2 separate regions of the Homo sapiens genome follow, and region 2 is linked to region 1. Evidence: fine-mapped expression QTL. Tissue or cell type: pancreas. Region 1 holds a variant in brackets; the other region holds the start of a gene. All regions are shown on one strand. Distances are between the middles of the regions.

Region 1 (8,085 bases):
TAACCCCGTCCCCGTGTCCCCCACCCCCTGCAAAGCACGCATTTGAGTGACCCCGTTCCCCTGTCCCCCACCCCCTGCAGAGCACGCATTTGAGCACTGGCAGGAGGACGCCTTCTTCGCCTCCCAGTTCCTGAATGGTCTCAACCCTGTCCTGATCCGCCGCTGTCACTACCTCCCAAAGAACTTCCCCGTCACTGATGCCATGGTGGCCTCAGTGTTGGGTCCTGGGACCAGCTTGCAGGCTGAGCTAGAGGTGAGGGGTGCAGGGATCTTGGCTCTGCACAGTCCCATCTCAGTGCCTTCACACCCGTCCCCTACTGGAGACAGAGGGGCACACTCACATTTGTTAGGGACCTACCGCGTGCTGCGTGCCAAGCACACTCTCCCGAAACACACTCCTCTCCCAGCCCTGAATCCTCTCCCTTCTACAACTGCACCCCCTTCATTTAGAAAACCAGGTGGCAGCCCCAGATCTCCTTTCTTCTGCAGAAGGGCTCCCTGTTCTTGGTGGATCACGGCATCCTCTCTGGCATCCAGACCAATGTCATTAATGGGAAGCCTCAGTTCTCTGCGGCCCCAATGACCCTGCTATACCAGAGCCCAGGCTGCGGGCCGCTGCTGCCTCTCGCCATCCAGGTATGCAGTCAGGCAGGGGCAGGGCAGCGTGAAGAAGAGTCAGGAGAATGGTTGGAAGACACTCATGGCTGCCTCTCTCCCCACCTGCCTCCCCCCAGCTCAGCCAGACCCCCGGCCCAAACAGCCCCATCTTCCTGCCCACTGATGACAAGTGGGACTGGTTGCTGGCCAAGACCTGGGTGCGCAATGCCGAGTTCTCCTTCCATGAGGCCCTCACGCACCTGCTGCACTCACATCTGCTGCCTGAGGTCTTCACCCTGGCTACCCTGCGTCAGCTGCCCCACTGCCACCCTCTCTTCAAGGTCAGTGGCTTGACAAGGTGGCCCAGCCTGTGCCCATGCCTCTGTGCCTCTTCTAAGCAGCCTTTCCTCACATGGCCCTATCCATGCAAGCTGGGATGCAGAGCCCCCGTCCGCTTCAGCAGCATCTCCTGGCACAACTCCCCTGGAAGCCTGCTATCCAGCAGGCCCTAAGTAACATAAATGCAGCACCCCAGAAAGGCTCTCGAAGGGAGATCAGGCAGCATCAACAGCCGTCATAGAAGCCCAAATCTTAGGAAGGGGAAGGACCTGGGGCTGGCAGGTGCCAAAGTTTGAACATGGCTTTGAGAGACCAACAAGTTCTCTGCAGATACTTCTGGGGTAGGGGAGGGCTGGGTGGGAGGCCCCCGTGCTCTAGGGTGGGTTCTGTAGGTTTCCTAGACCCTGCTAGCTTTCAGACGGCATGGATTCGAGGCATCTCCTCTGTGAAGGGCAGGATGGCCCCCTCCCAGGGTCCACCCACAGTCGCTGCTCAGATTCTCTGATCCTTCTAGACTTCTCCTGGGTCCCAGATGCGGGCCCTACTCTGTGCTCTTCTGTACTAGCTGGTTCTTTCTGACTATCTGCAGCTTCTGAGGCCTGGCGCTCAGAGGTGGGCTCTGGTGGACGGCTCCACATTGCCAGGCCCACAGGCCCTGGTTTTCCTAGTGCCTTCCCTGCCTAGGGGCTAGGAAATCACAGGATGCCAGAGCCGGAAGACACAGGGCTCAGCCACATCAGCACCCACATTTGACAAAACAACCTGAGGCTCAGGGAGAGGAAGGAGCACGCCTGAGCTCCCAGAACAAGCTGCTGGTGGAGCCCAGCAGGAACTCCAGGGCTCAGACCCCTGTCCCAGGCTGCCTCCTCTCATTCTTGTTGCCTCTTTCCAAGTGACTTGCAGGGCTGGTGCCTGTGTGGGGGAAGGTCTGGGGCCAGAACAACCCAGGCCTCCCCTAGCTCTGCCATTTTCCTGCCATGCAGCTGCTGATCCCGCACACCCGATACACCCTGCACATCAACACACTCGCCCGGGAGCTGCTTATCGTGCCAGGGCAGGTGGTGGACAGGGTGAGAGCTGTGTTGGGGAGGGAGTAGGCAGGCCACTCCTTCAATGTGACGAATTTGAGGTCCTGGGGTAGGAGTGGCCCATCTCCCCGACACCAGTGCTACCTCCTGCTTCTGGAGCAAGGTCTGTAGGACCCAAGAGTCCTGTCTCTCAGTCCACAGGCATCGGCATTGAAGGCTTCTCTGAGTTGATACAGAGGAACATGAAGCAGCTGAACTATTCTCTCCTGTGTCTGCCTGAGGATATCCGGACCCGAGGAGTTGAAGACATCCCAGGCTACTACTACCGTGATGATGGGATGCAGATCTGGGGTGCAGTGGAACGGTGAGGGGCCGTCCCTGGAGAGCCGAGGGCTGGTCGGGGACGTGGGAAGACAGGAAAGGAGACTGAGGCCCCAGGGAGGCTCACGTTGAGGAGGAGGGCCAGACATTCATGATGCTAAGCAGAGGCATTCCTCAGAGCGGGTCGGGGTTGGAGGCTGGACCTGAACCTGGATGCATTGCAGCTTTGTCTCTGAAATCATCGGTATCTACTACCCAAGTGATGAGTCTGTCCAAGATGACAGAGAGCTCCAGGCCTGGGTCAGAGAGATCTTCTCCAAGGGCTTCCTAAACCAGGAGAGCTCAGGTACAGGGACCTCAGCCCTCAGGCGCATTTGAGTGAGCCCATCCCCGTGTCCCCCACCCCCTGCAGAGCACGCATTTGAGTGGCCCCGTCCCCGTGTCCCCCACCCTCAAGGCTCACCCTCAAGCCTCCGCAGCAGGGTCCTCAGGTCCCTGGAAGCCCCATCCCAGCCCAGCTCTCCTTGCAGGTATACCCTCCTCACTGGAGACCCGGGAAGCCCTGGTGCAGTATGTCACCATGGTGATATTCACCTGCTCCGCCAAGCATGCGGCTGTCAGTGCAGGGCAGGTGAGGAAAGGCCAGCGCCCGAGGTGGCAGGCTGGAGGTGACCCAGCTCCTCAGCCTCATTCTGCCCTCTCGGCCTTCAGTTTGACTCCTGTGCTTGGATGCCCAACCTGCCACCCAGCATGCAGCTGCCACCACCCACCTCCAAAGGCCTGGCAACATGCGAGGGCTTCATAGCCACCCTCCCACCTGTCAATGCCACATGTGATGTCATCCTTGCTCTCTGGTTGCTGAGCAAGGAGCCTGGAGACCAAGTGAGTGTGGGGCTGGGGGCCAGGCTGGGCCAAATTGGGGTAAGAGAGGGTGTGATGTTTACCCTGCTGGCCCAGACCCAACCCTGCCATCAGGTAGCGGGTCCCTTTGCCCCACTGACCCTCCAGTGGGACACATGAGCCTTGGACATTTCACAGTGAAGGTCAAATGGCCAAATGCGATGATGCGGAGCCACTCTCAGTAGCAAGGGGAACGTGTAATTATGCTTCTTGGAAATTCCGAATTGAGCTTTCATTCCCCGAAAGCTTCCTGCAGATAAGCTTTACATGGATATCTGTTTAAGAGGAGGGACATGGATCAGGCCCCATCGAGGGCTACTTCAGGTCCCACACTTGGGGGCTAGGGCCAGAGCTGGCTAAGGCAAGTTGCAGCTGCTCAGATAGTGGGGACCAGGAGTCTGGGATGCAGGACCTCAGCAGCCGCCTCACCCAACCTTGTGGTGGATCCTCAGAGGCCCCTGGGCACCTATCCGGATGAGCACTTCACAGAGGAGGCCCCTCGGCGGAGCATCGCCACCTTCCAGAGCCGCCTGGCCCAGATCTCGAGGGGCATCCAGGAGCGGAACCAGGGCCTGGTGCTGCCCTACACCTACCTAGACCCTCCCCTCATCGAGAACAGCGTCTCCATCTAAATCCCAGGGGAACACAGGCCCAGATGACATCCCTTTGACCACATCGCTCTAGGATAACTGGCACCCAGAGAAAAGGACTCCTCAGAAAAAACAGGCCCCCATGTGCCTCTCCTGGGACAACCAGACTCTGTAACTCACCCCCACCACCATACACACACACAAAAACAGAAACAAAATCAAAACAGAGAAAGCAGAAAATCTACCAAGAACAGAGTCTCAGGACAGAACCACTGAGTCTTTTGGAGGCTCCAAGCCTCAAAGTGCCCGCAGAGCCCACCTTGAGGGTTTTGCTAGTTGGTTTTGTTTTGCGTTTTACAGCCGTGGGGGGAAGCACATAATCCCGCCCCAGGGCCCACTAGCATCCACTGATTGGACCTTATGGTCACCCAACTCAAGGACAGCCACCAAGAAGTGGCTGCCAAAGAGACTGGGCGCAGTGGCTCATGCCCATAATCCCAGCACTTTGGGAGATGGAGGCGGGAAAATCATTTGAGGTCAGAAGTTCAAGGCCAGCCTGGACGACATAGCGAGACTCCACCTCTACCAAAAAATAAAAATTAAAAAACAAATTGGGCCTGGTGGTATGTGGCTGTGGTCCTAACTACTCGAGAGGCTGAGGTGGGAGGACTGCTTGAGCCCAGGAGTTTGAGGCTGCAGTGAGCTATGATTGTGCCACGGCACTCCAGCCCAGGTAACCGAGCAAGACCCCGTTTCTATTAAAAAAAAAAAAAAAAAAAAACAAGGCCGGGCGTGGTGGCTCACACCTATAATCCCAGCACCTTGGAAGGTCAAGGTAGAGGGATCACCTGAGGTCAGGAGTTCAAGACCAGCCTGGCCAACGTGGTGAAACCCGGTCTCCACCCAAAATACAAAAAATAGCTAGGCGTGGTGGCACACATCTATAATCCCAGCAACTTGGAAGGCTGAGATAGGAGAATCACTTGAACCTGGGAGGCAGAGGTTGCAGTGAGCCCAGATCATGCCACCGCACTCCAGCCTGGGTGACAGAGTGAGACTCCGTCTCAGAAAAACAAAAATGAAAACAAAAAAT[A/G]CCCAAGAGGTTGATTGTGACCTACTGTCTCAGCTTTAAAGTGAACAAAACACTGAAAAAGGGTCACTGGGAGCCAGGCAGAATGAGAACACCCAGTCGGCACAGGCAGTGCCTATGTATACTTTCTTAAAAACATCCCCTAAAGTTAAAGACTTGTACGTTATAAGGCAGGTTCCGTTTCCAGAGAATCAGAAAACATTGTCATATCTCTAATCATACTTTGCTGCTAGATTTCATCATCACTGATGGATTTACATTTCATACACATTCTTTCATTCTGTTTTTCTTTTTTTTCTGGCTCATAGTCGGTGAGCATCCATTAAGGTAAAAAAGTGTCCTTTAAAAAAAAAAAAAAAACTCCCGTGGCGACACCTGGTAGACATCACCTTAATCAAATAATCCAGGTGAGTTCAGGCGTGGTGGCTCACACCTGTAATCCCAGCACTTTGGGAGGCCGAGGCGGGCGAATAACTTGAGGCCAGGTGTTAAAGACCAGCCTGGCCAACATGGCAAAACCCCATCTCTACTAAAAGTACAAAAACTAGCCGGGCTTGGTAGCAGGCGCCTGTAATCCCAGCTATTTAGGAGGCTGCGGCAGGAGAATCGCTTGAACCCAGGAGGCAGAGGTTGCAGTGAGCCGAGATCATGCTGCTGTATTCCAGCCTGAGTGACAGGGAGAGACTCTGTGTCAAAACAAAAAAAAAAAATCCAGGTGAACTTGCTGATACCATGTTGCTTTGCTCTAATGTTGTAAGAAGAGCACCTCATCTCTGTGGTTTCTTCTAGAAACTCATAACTACAGTCTAGTGATGAGAAAAATACAGACAAACCCAGATTGAGGGACATTCTGCAAAATACTTGACCAGCACTTTCCAAATTTTAAAATTGCCTTTGCTTTTTTGGTGTAAAAACAAAATGCATCCTTTACAATTCATCTAATGATTTCCATCACTACTACACATTGCAGGCATGAGTGCTTTTGTTTTTCAGTTTCACTGATTTTTATAAAACAATGTGGACAAAAATGCAATTTATATACTATAACTGCATAAACATTACCATTGGAAAAAAACAGAACAGTGCCTCAGAAAGGGTAGGGCTGACTGGCAAGTGGCATTTGACATGCTCATTCCTCGTTGAGAGTGAGTATACCGAAAGTGATTTAGAGATATATGTATCTGTCAAACTTCTTTCCATCAATTCCTGCTAACTTAAGCAATAAAGGAGTTAATGGAAAAGAAATGGAGTTCCTTGAGAAGTTAAAGAGCTGACTATGCAGGCCAGGCGCAGGGACTCAAGCCTGTGATCCCAGCACTGGAAGTCCAAGGCAGGAGGATTATTTGAGCCCAGGACTTCAAGACAGCTTGGGCAGTATAGTGAGACCCCATCTCTTCAAAAAAAATTAAAAAGTAGCAGAGCGTGGTCGCTCACGTCTATAGCCCTGGCTATTCGGGAGGCTGAGGAGGGAGGACTGCTTGATCCACGGAGGAAGAGGTTGCAGTGATCACACCACTGCATTCTAGTAATCCAGACTGGGCAACAGAGCGAGATCTTGTCTCAAAAAAAAAAAAGGCCGGGCGCGGTGGCCCACACCCATAATCCCAGCACTTTGGGAGGCCGAGGCGGGTGCATTACCTGAAGTCAGGAGTTCAAGACCAGCCTTACCAACATGGTGAAACCCCGTCTCTACTAAAACTACAAAAATTAGCTGGGCATGGTGGCAGGCGCCTGTAATCCCAGCTACTTGGGAGGCCGAGGCAGGAGAATCACTTGAACCCGGGAGGCAGAGGTTGCAGTGAGCCGAGATTGCACCACTGCACTCCAGCCTCGGCAACAGAGTGAGACCCCATCTCAAAAAAAAAAAAAAAAAAAGTTAATCATGCAGTTTCAGGAAAGAAACTGAAACCCAGGAAGCTCCAGGCATCTGGGGGACAAGGGACAAGAACTGATGGATGCTGTCCTCAGGCACTGCCATGGGAATAATGAAGCGCCTACCATTTTTCATCCTTGAGTTATTTGCCTCCATATTCAGTTCCGTGAGAGAGGCTGTTTGACGTAACACGGAGCAGCAGAGACCACTGGTTCCTGGAACAGAGAGAGTTTATGTTCACCCAATACCTCATGTACTTCCCAACATTTCCCAGCCTGCCTTAAAGTTAGATTGAGGCCATGTGACTAATTCTGGCCAGAACACTAATTCGCAGAGGAGTGATGTGTGTCCTTTCCAAGATGGGACAGTTACGAGCTGGTGTGCCTCCTTCATCCTTCTATTGCCCCATTGCCTATCCCTCGGAGGCATTTCCAGCTGACCTAGCCATCCTGACCTCTATTGCTGGACTTCCAGTTCAGGAGGACAAGGTTCACAACTGCCCATCACAGCGCCGGCACACTGCAGGTGCTTGGTAAGTACGTGCTGAATGAAGGAATTAATTCCTGCACAAATAATTCCTAAAACCCTGTGGTGCCCATCGCTTACCTGTGTCTCCCCAACCAGACTGTGAGCTTCTTGAATGCAGGAGCTGGGTCTCACTCAACTTGCCAGGCCTCATGCCCAGCGCTGCATTGACACAGAGTGATACCCAACAAATGTTTGTTTAATGTTGGATGAAGGGAAAGTGATTGGATGGTTGCATGCGTGGATGTACTGGTGAGTTGGAGGGCAGTTGCACCCCAGTCAATAAACTGGTGTTTGTTTCAGTATATATCTTTTGGGATCAACTATCATTTCCAGGAGAAACTGCAGCGTCCAAGGCAGCATAGCCGTGAAAATCCAAGCAGTCAGTCCCTAACCACTCTTGGAGAAGCCACCACCACCTCCTCTGCCCAGGGCCTGTGAGCTTGTGAGCCTGTGAGGTCCCCCCGCCACACACACCACACAACCCTAGCCCTAGAGCTCTCAGCTGGCCTCCCCGCCTTGAGAAGAGAAGGTTCTTCTCTTCTACAGAGAACTTCACCTCTACAGAGAACATTCTCTACAGAGAACATTCACCTCTAGGGATATCCAGTTAATGCTCCAGAATGGTGGCCTCCTTGGGCTATGATGGATGGTAAATAGATAGAAGATAGATAGTAGATAGATAGATGATGACAGATAGATAGATAGATAGATAGATAGATAGATAGATAGATAGTAGATAGATAGAAGATAGATAGTAGATAGTAGATAGAAGATAGATAGATGATAGATAGTAGATAGTAGACAGATAGTAGACAGATA
Region 2 (8,083 bases), 39 kb after region 1:
AAATTAGCCGGGCGTGGTGGCACTCGCCTGTAGTCCCAGCTACTCAGGAGGCTGAGGCAGGAGAATCACTTGAACCTGGAAGGTGGAGGTTGCAGTGAGCCGAGATTGCGCCACTGCACTCCAGGGCGACAGAGCGAGACTCCATCTCAAAAAAAAAAATTTGAAAATATGCCCAAATGTCCAGCTAGTCAGTGGAAGAACTGAGACCTAAGTCCAGGTCCGTCTTTCTCCAGCACCCTGGCTGGTGGTCCCCAGGCTGGCCTGTGCCTACCGCTGCAGCCCATCATTTCCCCTCAAGTCCCTTACCTCACCACCCTCTCCCTCCTCCACCTGCCTCAGCTCATGTTGTATTCTGGATGAACAGTGCTCCCTGGAGTTGTGCAACCCAGAGACCTAGCTCGTTTTCATCCCCAGGGCGGAAGACTCACTCCTTTGAGGGCCCTATGGGTGACTCAAGTCTCCCTGTCCTGTTGCGTGGCAGCGGCCCCACCCAACCCCATTCCTGCCTGGCCACCAGCATCACCCTGCCTGTCCCCTGCTTCCATGTCACCCAGACCTGTCACTGCAGGAAGATGCTCTGTGTCCCCAGTGAGACCCTCCCCTTGGCATGCTCACCATCTCCCAGGCTTTCCTCGCCTCTCCTTTCCCCAGCTCAGGCCCTGTTCCCCAATCCTGGGGGAAGATTCCAGCACAGGGCAATGAGAAACGGAAGAGAGGTAGTCAGCTGCAGGGAGGATGGGGCTTCGGGCCCTGGGTGTCCTCAGCTCAGCCTTTCCCTCCCATTCGCCTCAAGGGAAGCCAACAGACACTCAGGTGGTGGAACTGGGAGATAAGAGAGGACAGGCCCCCAGTCCTCATGCAGCACCACAAATTAGGAAGCTGACCCCAGCCCACCACACAAGGGGCTCTGGCAGGGGTGGGTGCAAGGAGCTCAGCCACTCCGGTCCTATGTCTCTCCCATGGGAGTAACCAAGCAAGTGGAAAACCCACTGGGCAGCCTTGGCCAGCCTTAACCTTGGAGAAACCCTGACAGTCTATCTGAATAACAGGGCCCCTATTAGATAGATCCTTACTGGATTAAGGGGGGCCTTTTGGAGTAACAGTGCATCCTGTTAGAGAAATATGGTGTCCTGTTGGGAAAATAGGGAGTCCTTTGGAGCAATAGAACATCCCATCAGTCTAAAAAATGCTCAATTAGAAAACTGGGGCTCATGCCTGTAATGCCAGCACTTTGGGAGGCTGAGGCAGGCAGATCACCTGAGTTCAGGAGTTTGAGACCAGCCTGGCCAACAAAGTGAAACCCCATCTCTACTAAAAATGCAAAAACTAGCATCAGGAGGCTGAGGCAGGAGAATCGCTTGAACCTGGGAGGTGGAGGTTGCAGTGAGCCGAGATCGTGCCATTGCACTCCAGCCTGGGCAACAAGAGTGAAACTCCGTCTCAAAAAAAGAAAGCCAGGGCGTCATAATTATAAGACCGCAGCACCACGGAGACCTGTTGAACTCAAAGGGCTTCTAAATGGGATAGCAAGGTGCTGGTTGGAATAATGGGGCATCCTGTTATAGTAACAGAATCCTGCTGGAGTAACAGGGCGTCTTTCTGGAGCGCATATGATTGGCATCATAAATAGGCCTCCTGTGAGAGTCCTGAGCCTGTACTTAGCATCACAAGGGGTATTTTTAACGTGGCCGGGCATCTTATAGGAGTCAGGGAGGACTGGAGAGGTAGCGGGGAGCGCACTCTGGGAATGCTGTCTGCTGCCAGATGGGGATGCTGAGGGTAGCTGCTGGGCCTCAGGCACCTCTCTTCCTCCAATGTGCAGCCCCAAGCTGAGCTCAGGGCAGCAGCACTGACTGAGGGAAATGTGTGACAGTGGCAGGAGAGCCCAGGAGTCCCTGGTGGGGCTGGGCCCCCCTCTGGCTTGATGGGAGCCTGGGTGCCATGCCAGGGTAGCAGGCTGGAGCTAGAGGCCTCACGGCCATAGGATGGAGCAGGGTGATGAGGGCTTACCTGTGGCCTCCCGGAGTGCCAGGGTCTCGTAGCCATCCATCCACTGGTAGGCGGGGAAGTGGTAGATACGGCCGTTGGGGGCACAGATCTGCACATAGTTGCAGTACCAAGGGTCCTTGGGGAAGAAGGCGTACCGCTCTTTGTGCAGGCGGATGATGATGAGCTCACCCAGGTCCTGAGGGCACTGCACGGTGTACTGGCCCACCTAGGCAGGATGCAAGCCTGGCTGAGTGGGCAGGACTTCACCCCGGCTCCCAGGCCGCCCACCCCTCTGGCCCCTCACCTAGGCCCTGCTCATGCTGCGCAATGCTCACCTCCCTGGACTGACGGAGGGACAGGATATTGACCTGATCATTGAGCTTCCTTCTGACTTCTCCAGCTTGGGGGTCTCCTACTGGATTCCTCTACCCAGGGCTATGTAGGACTCCAGCCCCTCCTTCTCTCCATCCCCAGCTCCTGTCTTCTCCCACTCCCCTCTCCAGGCACCTGAGGTTGCAGGAACCCTTCAGACCCCTGGGGACTTGGGTACCACTCTACAGTTTTCGAGTGGGGAGAGGCCCAGCCAGCCCCTTCTCCCATTCATCAATGAAGATGCAGATATTCAGAATGGCCACATAGATAGAGTGACCTATTAAGGTCGCCTAGCAGCAGGTGGCTGGGTCTGACTGAAAATCAGGTCTGAGGACCCGCAAAGCGTGCCTTCCACTGGACAGGCTGGTCTGATGCCATTTTAAGTCACAGAGAATCCAGTGCAAATGTGAGACAGTTAGGAGGCAGCTGAATTAGGAAGAGTGACTGAGAATGGAAGAGAGAGGGATGCGGGAGAGGGGGTAAGACAGAAAGGGGAGGAGAGCAAAGGGGAAGGAAAGCAGGTGGAAAGGATTGAGAAAAGAGAGATGCAGGATAGGCAGAGACAGGGAGAGAGGGCTGAGGAAGAGGGAGAGAGAAGAAAAGGATGGGGAGGGAGATGAGGAATGCCTGAAAGGGTTAGAGATGAAGGAGCAGGATGGAGAAGGATGGCCCAGAGATCTGGGACATGGGCGAGGGGCTGGAAGCCAGCTCTGGACAAGGCGTGTAGAGCCACTGGGGAGCCCACTGCCTTCGGAGCTGTGCCTCAGCTCTCCAGCCTCTCCTCGCCAAGCTCAGCTCACCTGGCTCCCCCTGCGCACCTTCACCCCTCCCGGGGCCACAAAGACACACAGACACACACAGACACACACAGACACACACACACACACACACAGACACACACACACACACACACACACACACACTCTTACCGCCCCAGTTGCAAAGTCTCTCCCAAAGTGGTTCAGCAGCTGCTTATGGCTCTCTCCTTGTGTCCCCACAATGGTCAGTGAGATGGAGTCCCGTGTTCCCGACAAGAGGTCGGTGCCTGTGGCCACCCTGACTTTGTAGGTGGCCATGGCTGCTCTTCAGGAGGCAAGAGGGGCACTCAGTCCCAGACACCGTGGAGGGGCCACACGAAGGCCCAAGGCAGGCAAGAGAAGCCAGGCACAGAGTGGAGTGGACAGGGCTGGCCTCCGAGGTGCAGTGGTGAGGTGGCGAGGTGGGGTGACTAGGCCTGCCAGCCAAATTCTGGAAAAGCTGCTGCCCTTGGTGGCCGGGGTGGGTGCCGGGCAGGCCCAGGCGGAGCCCAGCTGGTGGTGAGTGAGCAGGTGTCTGGGCTCCAAGCCTTCTGGGAGCTGGTGGGGAGGAAGAGCAGGCAGGGCACTGGGCCTGCCTCTGAAAGGGCGGATAGAAGATGCCGTGGATGAAGGCGCCTTCAGGGTGGGGGAGCCAGTCCAGCCTGAGCCAGGGCCCTAGGGAAGTTGCGGGAGGGGGCAGGGTGTGGTCCCCAGATCTTTATCAGACTAATAAGCTCCTTCCTCCTGCCAGTCCCCATTGGCTACAGTGCCAGGCACCCCTACTAAGCAGGGCCATGGGCAGTGAGTGACTTGCATTGGTTCTGAGGCCACTGGTGGGCGGGGGAGGGGAGGGGGAGGGGCACTAAGTGGCAGCGCAGCTGGCCAGCCTCCAGGCCATTCCTCTCTGGGAAATGGGACAGGTAGTGGCCACAGTGAGAAAGCTGGCCTGTCCTTCTGCCCCAGGGCCCAGAGTCTGTGACTGGAAGGGTGGGAGGTGTTGAAGCTAGGGCTCGGGGACCACATGGGTGCCCAAAGGCCTGAAGATGCTGCGGGGAGGAACGATCAGGGTAGGAGAAGGGGATCTGTTGCTTCCTGTGGGGCCAGGATCCACTGGTGAGGGATTGGAGTTGGATATAAAATCAGAAGCCCAAAAAAAAAAAAAAAAAAACTAAATTAGAAGACAGAGTGAAATCTGGGGCATAAGAATTAAGTTAAATAGCTGGGCGTGGTGGCTCACGCCTGTAATCCCAGCACTTTAGAAAGCCAAGGCAGGTGGGTCACCTGAGCTCAAGAGTTCGAGACCAGCCTGGCCAACATGGTGAAACCTTGTCTCTACTAAAAATACAAAAATTAGCCAGGCGTGGTGGCATGCGCCTGTAGTCCCAGCTACTTGGGAGGCTGAGGCAGGAGAATCGCTTGAACTCAGGAGGCGGAAGTTGCAGTGAGTTGAGATCGTGCCACCGCACTCCAGCCTGGGCAACAGAGCAAGACTCCGTCTCCAAAAAAAAAAGACAAAAGAATTAAGTTAAATAATGGATTAATATGATCAATATTTTGTGGTATAATCATAAAATAGAATTCTACCCAGGAATAAAAAGAATGAACTGCAATGCGGATGAGTCTCACAAAGATGATACTGAGCAAAAAGAGCCAGACATTAAAGGGGATACGTTCTGTTATCCATTGATAGGAACTTCCAGAACCAGCAAAACTGAGCAATTCTCAGACAACCTCTACTGGTGAGTATCCCTGGCAGAGGGAGGCCATATAGGCTGCTGGAGGTGTTCTTATCTTGATCTGAGGGGCGTCTAGGGTACTTCATTCATTTCATTATGTGTTATCCTTTAATTTCATAAAGTACATACCCTCACTTCCCTCCCAAAAAAGAATGAAGCTAGGAAGAGGGCTGGAGGCAGGGCTGAGCTCCAGTGGAACTGTGTTTGTTGGGAACCAGGTCGTTCCTCCCTCAGATATGTAGTGAGCACGGTGCACGGCGTTCTAGGCACTGCAGAGGCAGAGAAGAAATGAAACATACATGGAGCTTACGGAATAGCTGGGAAAGAAGTGAAAGAAACAGTAAACAAGAATTTGTTCACTATAATTTTGGATACTAAGTGCTCTGAAGAAAATAAGCGTGGGAGGTTGGGATTGGGAACTAGTTGCTGATAGAATCACAGAAGTCAGAGCCGCAGGATAGGGAGAAGGTGTTAGGAGTAAGGTGAAGAGCATTATGAGAGAGTCAGAGATAGACTCTCCAAAGATAGGATTTGGGACCCAGGGAGAGTGAGGAGGCAGGCACGTTCCTATTCCCTTTTTCTGGACCTGTCCTCTTTCCTTTCACCTCCGAGGAGCAGCTTCTGTCAACCAGGAAGCATAGCCCTGCTTTCCTCCCTGATGGCACGCTTCCATCACCATCGAAGGAAGGTCATTCAATGCCCAGGCCAAGTTAGGGTCAGAGGGGGCTGGGATTGTGAGATGAAGAGAAGGTTCCAGTAGGTTCCAGACTGGATGTGGAATGGGGTCGAAACTGCAATTCAGGTTTAGGTTAGAGACACAGATGTGGCTGGAGTTGGGGATTGAAATGATCTTTTCCAGACCCAAATCTGTTCACATCACTCTCTATGTTCCCTCCTCCCAACCCTGATCAAGCCTGGCAGTGGCTCCTCTTTACCTTTGGGACAGTGACACCATCCCCTCCCGTGGCCCCCACGGCCTGCCTGATTGGCTTCACCCCTCACATTCCCCTTTGCTCTCTTCTGTCTGGGACCACGTGCCTTTCATTCATTCATCAACAGACACTGGCCGAACCCCTACTGTGTGTTCAGCGCTGTGTCAGGTCCTGAAAATACAATGCGATCAAAGCAAACCCCTGCACCCATGGAGCTTGCCTTCAAGTGAGGGAAGCAGACAATATTACCTAGTAACCAAATACATTAAATAGTATGTTAAATAGTGATAAGTGCTGAAGAGAAAAGAGAGAACAGGGAAGGATAATATAAAAAATAGAGGAGTGCCGGGCATGGTGGCTCATGCCTGTAATCCCAGCACTTTGGGAGGCTGAGGTGGGCGGATCACCTGAGGTCAGGAGTTCGGGACCAGCCTGACCAACATGGAGTAACCCCGTCTCTACTAAAAATAAAAATTAGCCGGGCATGGTGGCGCATGCCTGTAATCCCAGCTACTCGGGGGCTGAGGCAGGAGAATAGCTTGAACCCAGGAAGCAGAGGTTGCAGTGAGCCAAGGTCATGCCATTGCTATCAAGCCTGGGCAACAAAAGCGAAAATCCATCTCAGAAAAAAGAAAAGGAGGATATTTTAGATACAGAGTGGCCAAGGAGGGCTCCTTGGGAAGAAGACTTTTGAGTAAAGACCTGAAGGAAGTGAAGTCAGCTCGTCACCATCCCAGGGCCTTGGCACATGCTGTTCCCTCTCTACCTCTCAAACTGAGGTCACGTTTCCTCTTCCTCCTGATCTTAGCTCAATAATTGCTTTTTCCAGGAAAGCCAAATTTCACTATACATGGCTCTCACAGCACTATAGCTAACATCTTTGATTGATGTCTGTTTTCTCTAATAAATTAGTCCATACTTTTTTTTGGTTTTGTCCCCATCTCCTGGTGTCATACTTGGTACCTGGGAGACACCGAAAACATAGTTGAATGGGTTAATGACAAGGACAAGGTCAGGGCTGGGGATTGAATCGATGATGGCTTTGGAGTTATGGTGAAGATCCGAAGAGAGCTGACTTGGGCTCAGGGTGAGAGAAGGGGCAAGGCGTGGTGTAGGGGAGGGAAAGGGGTTGGGTGGGGAGGGAGGGAGGAGAGGGGAGAAGGCTGAGGATGAGGGTTGTGCCCAGCTCTGGGTGGCAGGGCTGGCTGTCCTGGGCTGCAGACAGAAGCCGTCCAGCTGGATCTCCCCCCTGGGATCTCCCTCCTCAACCACCTCGATGACTCTTGGAGGATGCTGGGAGCCTGAAGATGCAAATCTTAAGATGCAAATTCCATGCAAATTCTCCCAGCTTCCTCTTTCTAATCTCTCCCCTTTGCCCTGTGTCCCCAGGGGGCTGCTGAGGCTTGGTGAGAAGCAGGGCAGTGGACTGGGCAAACTGAGTCATATCCTGCTACCAATAGGTCTCCTCCAACCCAAATCCCAGGGTGGCCCTGGGTTTGCTCAGGGCTCCAGTGTGGAGTGGGAATTAGGTTCCTGAGGGAGACGGAGATGGAGGCAGGGATGCTGAGGATGTCAATGTGGCTGGGGCAGGGACAGGGACGGGATCAGGCATGAGGATGTAGATGGGGCACTCCCCAGCTATGACCAAAACGTAGACGCGTGACTCTTGATAGGTGCTCATTGGGCTGAAGAACTGGTTCTCCTGGACCAGGGGCGGGAGCCAGTGAGGAGGAGAGGTTTCTGGGAAGGATTCACACTCACTGGGGTTGCTAACTAGGGGCCATCCACACAGGAAGCTGAGTTCTCACTGCTGGGGTATCCCCCGTGCCTGACCCCACCCCAAGCCCTGCAAGGCAAGGAGCAACTAACTCCTGGGGACCCACTCTCCTAAGACACAGAGAAAGAAAAATCAAATCACGCCACTCCCCTGCTTAAAGTTCACCAGAGCTTAAAATGGGGTTGTCCGTAGAAATGAATCCAAGGGCCAGGCGCGGTGGCTCATGCCCATAATCCCAGCACTTTGGGAGGCCAACACAGGCGGATCATGAGGTCGGGAGTTCAAGACCAGCCTGACCAACATGGTAAAACCCCGTCTCTACTAAAAATACAAAAATTAGCCGGGCGTTGTGGCACGCGCCTGTAATCCCAGCTATTCAGGAGGCTGAGACGGGAGAATCGCTTGAACAGGGGAGGTGGAGATTGCAGTAAGCCAAGATAGCGCCACTGCACTCCAGCCTGGGCAATAGAGAGAGACTCC

Which allele goes with the higher level. Alleles are on the strand shown, and positions count from the first base shown. SD is a standard deviation of normalised expression in the study named.
For the expression in pancreas of the gene that starts at base 3,711 in region 2, G is the high allele of the variant in region 1 and A is the other (small effect, 0.36 SD a copy in GTEx).

Evidence for each region. PIP is the estimated chance that this variant, and not a neighbour inherited with it, causes the effect.
Region 2: it holds the start of ALOX12B, and the variant in region 1 is fine-mapped to the expression of ALOX12B in pancreas (GTEx, PIP 0.94).

What each region holds. Positions count from the first base shown.
Region 1 is chr17:8,044,749-8,052,833 of GRCh38, forward strand. ALOX15B (arachidonate 15-lipoxygenase type B) reads left to right here. Exons shown (of 14, transcript NM_001141.3): 6 at 81-253; 7 at 490-636; 8 at 735-938; 9 at 1,920-2,006; 10 at 2,159-2,328; 11 at 2,510-2,631; 12 at 2,816-2,916; 13 at 2,997-3,167; 14 at 3,638-4,386. The coding sequence ends at 3,817. Among named protein-coding and RNA genes, the nearest start is that of ALOX15B, 9.7 kb to the left of the region's middle. The variant A/G (reference allele first, on the strand shown) is at 4,869.
Region 2 is chr17:8,084,006-8,092,088 of GRCh38, forward strand. It overlaps ALOX12B (arachidonate 12-lipoxygenase, 12R type), which reads right to left and starts at 3,711. Exons shown (of 15, transcript NM_001139.3): 1 at 3,291-3,711; 2 at 2,011-2,215. The coding sequence starts at 3,437. It overlaps MIR4314 (microRNA 4314), which reads left to right and starts at 4,051; the gene lies at 4,051-4,142. RefSeq lists an enhancer at 2,739-3,487.